Homo sapiens: one gene and its partners. The protein of the gene in region 1 interacts with the protein of each later gene in a pairwise test. Each region holds a gene or a part of one and is shown in the gene's direction. Other genes may lie near its edges.

Region 1 (3,348 bases):
AATAGGATGTCATGTTTGACATTTTTGATAGTGACTTTGGGGTCTTCTTCACTGAAAGCACCTTAGAACTGTACTATAAGAAAACATTTCCCCTATGTATAATTATATGAATGTGATGTTTATTGCTTATTAATTTATAATTCAGTCATTCTCTATATAGGACTTCTTAAAATTTAGAAGGGAAATCTAGCTACTTCAAATTGTCTGTTAAATTTATTATGCCCAAATCAACCTCTGAAAAAAGGTTTTTCCAGGAAGATTTACATTTAGGTTTAATATTTTTTTAGTTAGGTAGAGTTTTAAAAAATACTTGAGCCTGTCCGTGATAAAGCTATAAAATTCAATAACTTTTTAGAATGTTAAATGAAGACACTGTTTCCTAACATCAGTGAGATACATCTTTGAATTTAAACATTCATATTTACTGAGTACCTACTAGGTACCAAGTACTCTTTTAGGCACTGGAAATACAGTGATGGACAAAACAGGTAAAAAATCGCTGCCCCCTCAGAGCTGACATTCTGGGGTGGGAATTTCATTTTGCCACGTACTAACGTTCTGCACAAAAGACAGGCTAGACTCTTGTCTAGATTGTTTAAAAGAAACTTTTCAAATTGGTTACATTAATTTTAGTTTATTTTCACAAGTAAAAATGGCTTTTTATTTAGATTCTTTCTGTCCCAGGCTGTTGATCTTAAAACTAGTTGATTTAAAGAGTTTTTTTGCACAACATTTCAATTATATTTGTGAACTTAGAAATTAACTTACAATCTAACCAGCCATCATATCATATCCTATCAGGCTAGATATCTCAATAGTAGACTGAATACAAAGCTAATTTTTTTTACATGTCAATATTGGCACAAACTGGAATGAAAGAATAGTTTGATTCAGACCTGCTCCACTATGTGTTGCTAAAACACATGCTATGAGCACTCCAGGAAACACTATATTTTTTCCAAAAAATATGTGATTATATATGTTAAAGTATAGATAACATTTCACACTTGGATACATATGTGCATTTACTGTATTTCTTGGTAAGCATATTTTTGGGGGAAAGTGCTGCTGATATGATACAAGTAGACAAAATTTAAATGAAATTTTGTCACATTCTATGGAAAATGGTTTCTGGTAAACTGAGAAGGATATTAAAATAAGTGGCTTTTTTCTGGGCTACCATTATTGTTTGATTTCTCTTTGTCAAGTGTATAGAACCTGTCATACATTCATGATAAGTAGCACTGAAAAATTACTCATTCAAATTTCCCCTGGGCACGTAAGGCAAAATATTGCCGGTTGGGATTTCAAGGTCAGTGACGACGCATTTCCTCCCAGTACAGACCCCCCAGCCCCCCTTGCTGGACATGGGGAGGCAGAGAGTCACTTGACCATCCAGAAATACATGACTACAAGTCCTTTATGACTGTTTGCCATTTTTTTTAATGGTACTTAGTATTTTGATCAAACTTTAGTCTCCAGAACTAAACAAGTCCCTAAGTTTCCTTATTTTAATTTACTGTGACTAGATTTGAAGCAAATAAATACTCCAGATCCATGCAGCTAGAACACACTTGCTTCCACTACTAAATATACAGGGTATGTCCTAACATGGAGTTAACTGGAATAGCAGTACACTAGCAAGTATCTGTGAATCCTTAGCACTGACGGGTTAACAGAAATGCTTTGGTAATACCTACTTAGTTAATTGGAGGAAGTAGTAAATAAACATTAGGTAATCTGCAGATTACTTCAAATGGGAAAAATCTTTTTGTAGACTCTATAGTACCCTCTCTATTCACTAGCTTCTGAAAAGGGAGGAGTATTTTTAGTTTGACAATTTAATAATTTAAAAACAAGACATCTCCAGGTAGGAAAAAATGAAAGCTATTTCATGCAAACATTATCTAATTTAGCTTAAAAGTGAAAGTGGTAATACTGTTGGTTTCTGTAAATGTTGCAGGGTTTTAAACTTTATAATTACTTTAATATTTTTGATAACTAGAAATCTAGTATTGCCATAAAGGAAACTAAGTGCCCATCAAAGATTTGTTTGGTATAAATAAAGAATTATTTGTTTTGTTTTCAATGACAGTAAGCTACAAATCATGATGCTTAAAAACTTTCTAAAGATGAATTGTGTGGCAGTGATTGGTCTGTTTGTGGAGAATGTATGAAAGCTATTAATATTCTAGAATAGATTAATAAATTGGCTATGTTGTTCCAATGAATGTACAGCACTTCCATTAACTTTTGAAAGCAACACAGCCTTAAACTCAATGCTTTTGCTTTATGACATGGGAATGTTCTGTCATCAATGGAGTGTATTCTTGTAATAGAATTCTTTATATCGTTCTCAATTCTATAGACTTTCAAGCCTATGTATGAATATGAAGGGGTTTTTTTTTTTTGCTTTGTTTTCTTTTTAGATTTTGTACATTCCATCTTTATAGGTCTGTTTCATATGTTTTATGTATAGAACACTAAGTCTTGCACTCTCTGACATTGATACTGATATATTCTCGTCATTTGTTCTTTTATGAATCAAAATGTTGACTGCCTATTTAAAGAAAAGAATGAACGCTGTGCATCAAAGTGTTTGTATGTTCGTAGCTACATACGTACCACAGTATTTTGGATGCTTTAGTCTACAATGAAACTTTCAATTAATTCTGTCTTGAAACATAGGAGAAACAGGATTCATGTGTATCTCTTTACCATGCACAAAATCTCAAATCATTATAATAAAGCTTGTTTTCTCCATTTGCAGAGTGAATATTTATTTATTTAATATTTCTCCATTTGCAGAGTGAATATTTATTTAATATATTCTCTGCCTGAAGGGAAATTGAGGAACATCCTGGAATCTGTGGAAGATAGCAATACTGCAACCAGACTATTTATACTAGTGAGGAAAAGCTCAAGAAAATTTTTGTTGGCTATGACATTAATAATCCATTAGTATTTAGGATGTATCTTAAGTAGGAATTTGGAAAATCCTGATACATACGTAGAACATGTACATTTAGAAAGTTATAGAAGTAGAACAACCTTACCAACCTTTTTTTTTTTTTTTTGAGACAGGGTCTGGCTCTGGCTCTGGCTCTGTTGTCCAGGCTAGAGTGCAGTGGTGTGATCATGGCTTCCTGCAGCCTCGACCTCCCTGGCTCAAGCAGTCCTTCCACCTCAGCCTCCCAAGTAGCTGGGACTATAGTCACTCACCAACACGCCTGGCTAATTTTTTAAATTTTTTCTAAGAGATGCGGTCACTACTTTGCCCAGGATGGTCTGAACTCCTGGGCTCAAGCAATCTCCTGCCTGGGCTTCCAAAGCGCTGGGATTACAGGC
Region 2 (3,660 bases), on another chromosome or scaffold:
TTCCTGGAGCATACCAAAGACAATGCTGACATTTGGTAGATATTAAATAAAATGAATGAATGAATGAACCTGAATTTTTACATTATTGCTATTATGGTATGTATATTGCCATGTGCTTAGCAACAAGGATACATTCTGAGAAATGAGTTGTTACACATTTCATCGTTGTTTGAAAATCATGGAGCGTACTTACACAAACCAAGATGGTATAGCTTAATACATACGAAGGCTATGTTATAGCCTGTTGCTCCTAGGCTACAAACCTATACAACATGTTACTGTACTAAACACTATAGGCCATTGTAACACAATGGTAAATATTTGTGTATCTAAATATAGAAAAAGTACAGTAAAAATTTGGTATTATTATCTTATGGGACCACCATGATATATGCCGTCTGTTGTTGAGTGAAACATTGTTATGTGGCACGTGAGTATGTAAACTATACAGCCTGTTTCTTTTTCACTTAACATTGTCTCTCAAGTAACTTCCATATGGTTATAATCAATATTTTAATAGCTATTCAGTATTCCTTTGAAGGTCAGTGCTGCGCAGTAGCACTTTCTGCATTGATGGAAATGTCCAATATATCTCACCGTTCAATACAGTACCTACTAGTCATATGTGGCTACTGAGCACTTGAAATGTTACCACTGTGACTAGGGAGCTGAATTTTTAATTTTATTTAATTTTAATTATTTTAAATGTAAATAACCACCTGTGACTGTGCCTACAGTGATGGGCAATACAAGTTGAGACCATAATGACTAACTACTTCTTTCTTGATAACAAATTAGATACATTTTCAATTATCACACTGTTATTCAAGGGAAGTGTACTTGAAATGTTGGTTAAAATATTTTGAATTTTAAATACACTAACCACCATCAACTAAAATTTTTATAATCTTAATTTAAATTCAATGTAAATGTATATGCTAGGAAGGAACAAGTTACAGAAAGGAACTTGTAACTTGCTTTTTGATCTATCACAGTTTTATACCGTACATTCATGAGCCTAAGGTTAGGTTTCTTGAGAGTACAGACTATGTCTCATGTTATTTTTTAATCTATTTCCAGATCCATACATAGTAAGCATTTAATACATGCTTATTGAAAGTTGTATATATTGGTTTGTCGTTTTGCTCTAAAAAAAGTTTACTTCTGAAATTATATGTTGTCTGTGTTTTCCTATAGGTTATGCTTTCTAATCCAGTGCTAGAGAATCCAGTGAATTTGGAAGCAGCCAGAATACTGGTTAAAGATGAATCTCTGTACAGAACAATTCTAAGACTTTTCAACAGGCCATTACAAAGTAAGAAGTATCTACTTTTGTTAGGTGCAGTGGCTCACGCCTGTAATCCCAACACTTTGGGAGGCTCAGGTGGGTGGATCATCTGAGGTCCGGAGTTCGAGACCAGCCTGACCAACATGGAGAAACCCTGTCTCTACTAAAATACAGAATTAGCTGGGCGTAGTGGCACATGCCAGTAATCCCACCTACTCGGGAGCCTGAGGCAGGAGAATCACTTGAACCTGGGAGGCAGAAGTTGCGGTGAGCCGAGATCATGCCATTGCACTCTAGCCCGGGCAACGAGAGTGAAACTCTGTCTCAAAAAAAAAAAGAAGTACCTACTTTTTGTTATTTGGCAATTATCAATTATACTTTAAACATTTATAGCATAGTGATCTAGGAAATAACTGTTATATAAGGGAATATTTGAAATATTTTCTGTATCCATTTTCAGTAATGAATGGTATTAAGATCTCTCCTACTGTAACTCTTTGTGAAACCAATCAGTGTGATCCTTTTTTAAAGATCATCAAAGATCTCAAGCTCCGTATCTTTAAATATTATGGTCATATGCATGGATGGTGCCAAATGAAACTAGTCCACCCATCATAAAGGTATGACATCTAATTTTGACTCTTCAATCTGTAATGGACATTTCCCAGACTTCACCTGCAGTACTCCAGATCTTACTGATTTGTACCACTTTTCTTCTTGATTAGCAAGATGTCAATGATTTTTTTCCGGAGAGTTCCCTCCCCAGGAATTCCTTCTAAGAATCCATGTGGAAATAGAGCCTGAAGCTCTTCAGTCTTTCTGCTCCACTGAGCAGTGTTTTCCTGATACCCTTGGTATCCTGCCAGCAGCCTCGTTATGACTCCTAACTCCATTGCCTCCATTGCCCCTGTGCGCTCTCTCTCTCTTTCTCTCCAGGTAGTAGAGCACTGCTTCTGGCTTCTTGTGCACAGAAGGGTTTCCCACAGCTGAGAGCTGGGCTCCTACTGACATAGTTATTTCCTTTATATCCTGCCCCACCTTCTTCTGGTAGCACACAGCAACCTTGCATAGTAGCTGGTATCATTACCTTCCCAATCAACAGGCCTTGATTTCTTATAGTACTTTTTCTCTCAGATTTACATTGCTTCTTTTTCTGTTTCCCTTCCAGGACTCCCAGTCCATTAGCTAGGTCTGTATAATTGTGACCAAGTTCAATTGCTCCTCCTCCACAGGGTTTTTGGGTCTGATACAAATCAAATGGTGTTGATCAAGCATCTTTTCCAGTACCATAGAACTTTATTCTACGACAAAGTTCTTGGGGGAGCTATTTGATCACAAGCTTAAGGTGAAGCAGTAATAGAAAATTCCCTTCTTCTAAGTATGTGTTATATACTCATTTTACCCTTCTCTGGCTTGGTGGGCTTTCATCTGGAATACCAGTAGGCTCCACTTGGAACCTCACATTTCTAAAGGCTGAAGAAACTGTATATATTTAGCCAACAGAAGAAAAGATAAAGGGCAGTTGTAAAAGCTGTTTTCAAATATTCGAAGGGATTTCCTATGGAAAAAGATTTCTTCTGGGTTGCTTCAGAAAACTAACATAGGACAAACACTGAAGTTACACGTCAGTCATACTTTCCCGGGCCTGCTGGGTTGTAGCAGAACTGAAGTTCACATACGCAGGCTTGGCCCTGCCTCGTGTCAGTACATACCTTAAATGTATCAGGGACTTTACTCCGTGATCAGTTGTCTGGAATTAATTTTATTGTCCTAAGTCTAAGCCTGGTATGTGATATGCAGACATGTAAATGTCGCTCATTACCCAAACTTTTCCCCAACATTTGTTATGTTTGCCTACCCTGAATAGCTAGGTCTTTGCCTCAGTGTATTGACAAGAAGACCAAGCTCTAAGCTCAAACCCAGTGTGGAGGTCTGATGACCTTCCCATTTCCTGACAGCCTCCTTTCCTTGTGGCCTGGCCCCTTTTCCTTTCTTAGAGGACTCACATACCCCAGACTGCCTGGGAAAGTCCTGGTATAATTATTCCCAGTACCTCCTTTCACTTGCAGTGTACCAGTTTGAACAAACGATTATCTAGCCAGTTGGGTGCCCAGCTGATCTTTCCTAAAAGCAAATGACTCTATAGTTGTGCCATTCTTAATGGTAAAGTCCATCCAGGTCCCAGTTGGCCAAACATGAGGAAGAATTGTTTGAAATAATTCAAGTTGCTTAAAAGAATGGACAAGGCCAGGCTGGCAGTTAGTAAACTCTCTATTACTAAAGGTATTCTTTGTATCTAGTGTTTATTTGATAGAGCTAAATGACCATTTTTCAGAGATGTTATCAAAGAGCTTCTTTGATAAAAAGCTCTG
Region 3 (3,660 bases), on another chromosome or scaffold:
TGCTCATTACTCTGGATTATGACTATGTTCAAGAAATACTATTTTCAAGCACTAATCATTTAGATAAAACTTTTTTTACACATTTATGGCATCAAGGAGTATGACTGTTTATAACATTTTACCTATAAAGCTGAACTGTTTTATATACTCTTTATGGAAACATGGCCATAAATTAAAAGATGCAACTGTTTTGAATATTTTACTGGTGGTCCTCTGTTTTCCTGCCAGCAGTGCAGCTGTTTCAGGTTTCTCAGGATAACATATAAAAAGCTGTATGCACACTGCAAGTTTATGCTCAAATTGCCAAGCCAGATATGGTATGACTCAACTTTCCCAGAAGCAAGCTGTACCAAAATGTGATGAATCAAAACAGTTAGTTGCACAGTGGTTTGTATTACAGCTATGAAAACCAATTCTCATTTATGATGTTTGGCTTTTCAAGGTTGACAAACATTCTACTGTGGTGCTTGAATTTTACCATAAGTGAACATCTATTGAAGCTAAGACTATGCTTTTCTTTTGAGGATCTGAGGAAAGGAAAGGGTGATACATTATCATCTGGTGTGCGGATAAAAATTAGCTGGAAACTTGTATCAGGAATGGAACATTTCATTTCCAAGTTACCTATAAAAATATTACTCACTTATTATTTGTATGATAGTTATTGAATTCCCTGTGAAGCCAGGTTAATTTTTAGACCTTTCTGAGGTAACTTAACATTTACTTCATTTCTCATGCATCAGAATCTTAACAGTTGATACTTTATTGTGTCTTGGAAAGTAATAAGCAGATAACTTTATGGCCATGGGGTAGGTGTGGTGAATCCCTATTTCAATCCTATGCGACCTAAGGTTCTATCAAGAGTTTAACAACGACTATTTTTCTTTTTTTTTTTTAAACAGGGTCTCACTCTGTTGCCCAGGCTGGAGTGCAGTGGTGCGATCTCCGCTCACTGCAACCTCTGCCTCATGGACTGAAGTGATTCTCTTGCCTCCCAAGTAGCTGGATTACAGGCACCTGCCACTGTGCCTGGCTACTTTTTCTATTTTTAGTAGAGACGGGGTTTCACCATGTTGGCCAGGCTGGTCTGAAACTCCTGTCCTCAGGTGATCCACCTGCCTCGGCTTCCCAGAGTGCTGGGCTCACAGGTGTGCGCCACCACACCCAGACAACAATGACTAATTAATAATAGTAGTCTCTAAAGTGGGATGTGTCCCATGAGGATATGTAAGATACAGTATATGGAGAAAATATTAAAACATTCATTCATTAATTTATTTAGAGATGGAGTCTCGCTGTGTCACCCAGGCTGGAGTGCAGTGGCGAAATCTCGGCTCACTGCAACCTCCACCTCCTGGGTTCAAGTGATTCTCCTGCCTCATCCTCCTGGGTAGCTGGGATTACAGGCATGTGCCACCACGCCCAGCCAAGTTTTTGTATTTTTAGTAGAGATGGGGTTTTGCCATATTGGCCAGGCTGGTCTTGAACTTCTGACTTCAGATGATCCGCCCACCTTGGCCTTCCAAAGTGCTGGGTTACAGGTGTGAGCCACTGTACCCAGCCAGAACTTTTATTTAAATATTTTTATTTCATCCTTTTTCTATTTATATTTTTATATTACACTGACTATATTAGTATCTTATGTATATAATTATATATAGTAACATATAGTACATTAGTATTCTACATAAAACATATCTGAGATATGTTTTATGGCTATAAAATACTATCAAAAATGTTTTTGTTTTTGTTCAATAAATATTCTCTTCTTCCTTCCGCTTTCCCCTTTCGCCCTTGGCAGAGAAGCAAATAATTGAGTTAAAACCTTGATTTGTGGCAATGTGAATAAATTATAGCTAATTCCAGGAACTTAGCTGCATCCTACCTTGACCCATTTTTTCTACTGGACTCTTATATTGCTCTATATGTTTTAGCTACACAGGTTTATTAAACATGGATACAGATGAAAAACAGACTTGTTATGTTAGAAGTTATAAGTTGCTCATGCATTAAGATTTTGACACACAGGAAGTTTGAATGAATGAGTGAAAAAGGTTCCAAGTTATTAAAATGTTCTGGTACCTGATTTATTCATTTGCCATACCAGTAATTCTAAGGTGGGTGAAGCTCCTTTACTTCCTGAAGAAACAAGTTAGTTTCTTAAACTAAGCATTAAAAGAAAGCTGGAATTATTTGTTTCCAGAAGTGTTAGTAGTCATGCTAAGTTGCCCTTCTTTGGCTAGATTGTCCAATGTTTTTTAGGCCTGTTTTGTCTATTTTTGTCAAGATATAAATGTTTAATTGCTTTAAAAAAACTGTGTGGTTGCAGAAAAAAATTGTACTGTTATATTGTTGAGATCAATGAGACTTTTCTGTATTTACTTTTTCAGACATTATTTTGAACTCAGGCTCAGTCTCAGAGATTTCTTCAACATGTAATTTTCTAATGTTTCCTTTCCTGCAAGGAATGAGACAATATATTCTTGGAATATTAAAGTACTTTTGAAGTAACTCATACGTTTTCTCCCCTCTTCCATTTGTTTAGCTATTGAGGGTTTGCTTTAAAACAAATTTATGTAGAAATATCAGTACTATAATAGTATTGTGATACTGTGTATTTCTTAAGCATATGCCAGGAAGGAGAGCATTAGTTAGGTGTCCAAAAAACAGCCAACAAAACAAATCAGCTCTGAAAATCGTGAAGCAGTGAATATTTTAGAATTATTTTTGAAACCTCTTTCAGAACTGTTTTTAGACCCCGTGGTAATTTGCTATGTAATTTAATACTAGTTTAGGCACTCCATGTACAGTTGGTATGTTTCCTTTTGAAAGATAATAATCTATTTATAATAAAAGTCTGAATATTTCAATCTCGGAATTCCTCTTTAAAACTTGAATCAGTTTTACTATTGCTTTTTAAAATGTTACCTATTTATATTTGCTTTGTATATCAATGCTACACTTCTTGTTTTGTTTTAGGTATTTAAACCATGTCAGAGCTGCCTCACCACAGGACCTTGCTGGAGGCTATACTTCTTCTCTTGCTTGTCACAGAGCACTACAGGATGCATTCAGTGGGCTTTTCTGGCAGCCCAGTTAACCATTTATAAGATTTGGACCTTGGAGCTGAACCAGGGAGCTAGCAAAAGTAAAGCAGACTTATAAAATTATAGCTATGTGCAGCTGCACAACACAGTCCTTCCACTAGCAGCTGTGTTAAAGTATTTATAAGGAGAAAATTTCAGAACTAAGTTGAGTAATATAGGGGATATATATTTGTGAAAAATAATTTTTACTTATATTTTTCAGAGGATTTGACACGATAAGCCTCATCTGATGGAAGAGAGGAATAAATAATTCACCTATATGTGTTTGAGGTTGTGACAGACTTATAAAATCTTTTTAAAAAATAAAGCTATAATTTATATTAAGTTCTGTGGTTTTTCTCTTATTACAGTGTTTTACTTGAACACATTTTAAATACCATTTTGATTACAACATTTACTGTTAATATCCAAGTCTATTATTTCTTCTCATAAAATGTTCCCCTTTTTCCTAATGTCTTGTTAATACTAGTCCAGACAAGTGGATATATTTCCTTTGACCAAGTTATGGCAAGAAAAACCTGACCCATGATAATGTCATTCCCTCAATACTAAG

What was found.
Region 2: the proteins of TRIM2 (region 1) and UBE2U interact in a two-hybrid assay, tested with the Homo sapiens proteins (one large-scale study listed by BioGRID and IntAct).
Region 3: the proteins of TRIM2 (region 1) and MNAT1 interact in a two-hybrid assay, tested with the Homo sapiens proteins (one large-scale study listed by BioGRID and IntAct).

Annotation. Positions count from the first base shown.
Region 1 is NC_000004.12:153,336,555-153,339,902, forward strand, and holds the end of TRIM2 (tripartite motif-containing protein 2), read left to right. Parts: 3' UTR 1-2,763; downstream 2,764-3,348. UniProt on the Homo sapiens protein: UBE2D1-dependent E3 ubiquitin-protein ligase that mediates the ubiquitination of NEFL and of phosphorylated BCL2L11. Plays a neuroprotective function. May play a role in neuronal rapid ischemic tolerance.
Region 2 is NC_000001.11:64,213,618-64,217,277, forward strand, and holds part of UBE2U (ubiquitin-conjugating enzyme E2 U), read left to right. Parts: intron 1-1,197; coding exon 1,198-1,315; intron 1,316-1,819; exon of another isoform or gene 1,820-1,908; intron 1,909-3,660. UniProt on the Homo sapiens protein: Catalyzes the covalent attachment of ubiquitin to other proteins.
Region 3 is NC_000014.9:60,965,250-60,968,909, forward strand, and holds part of MNAT1 (CDK-activating kinase assembly factor MAT1), read left to right. Parts: intron 1-2,979; coding exon 2,980-3,100; 3' UTR 3,101-3,309; coding exon of another isoform or gene 3,310-3,337; 3' UTR 3,338-3,660.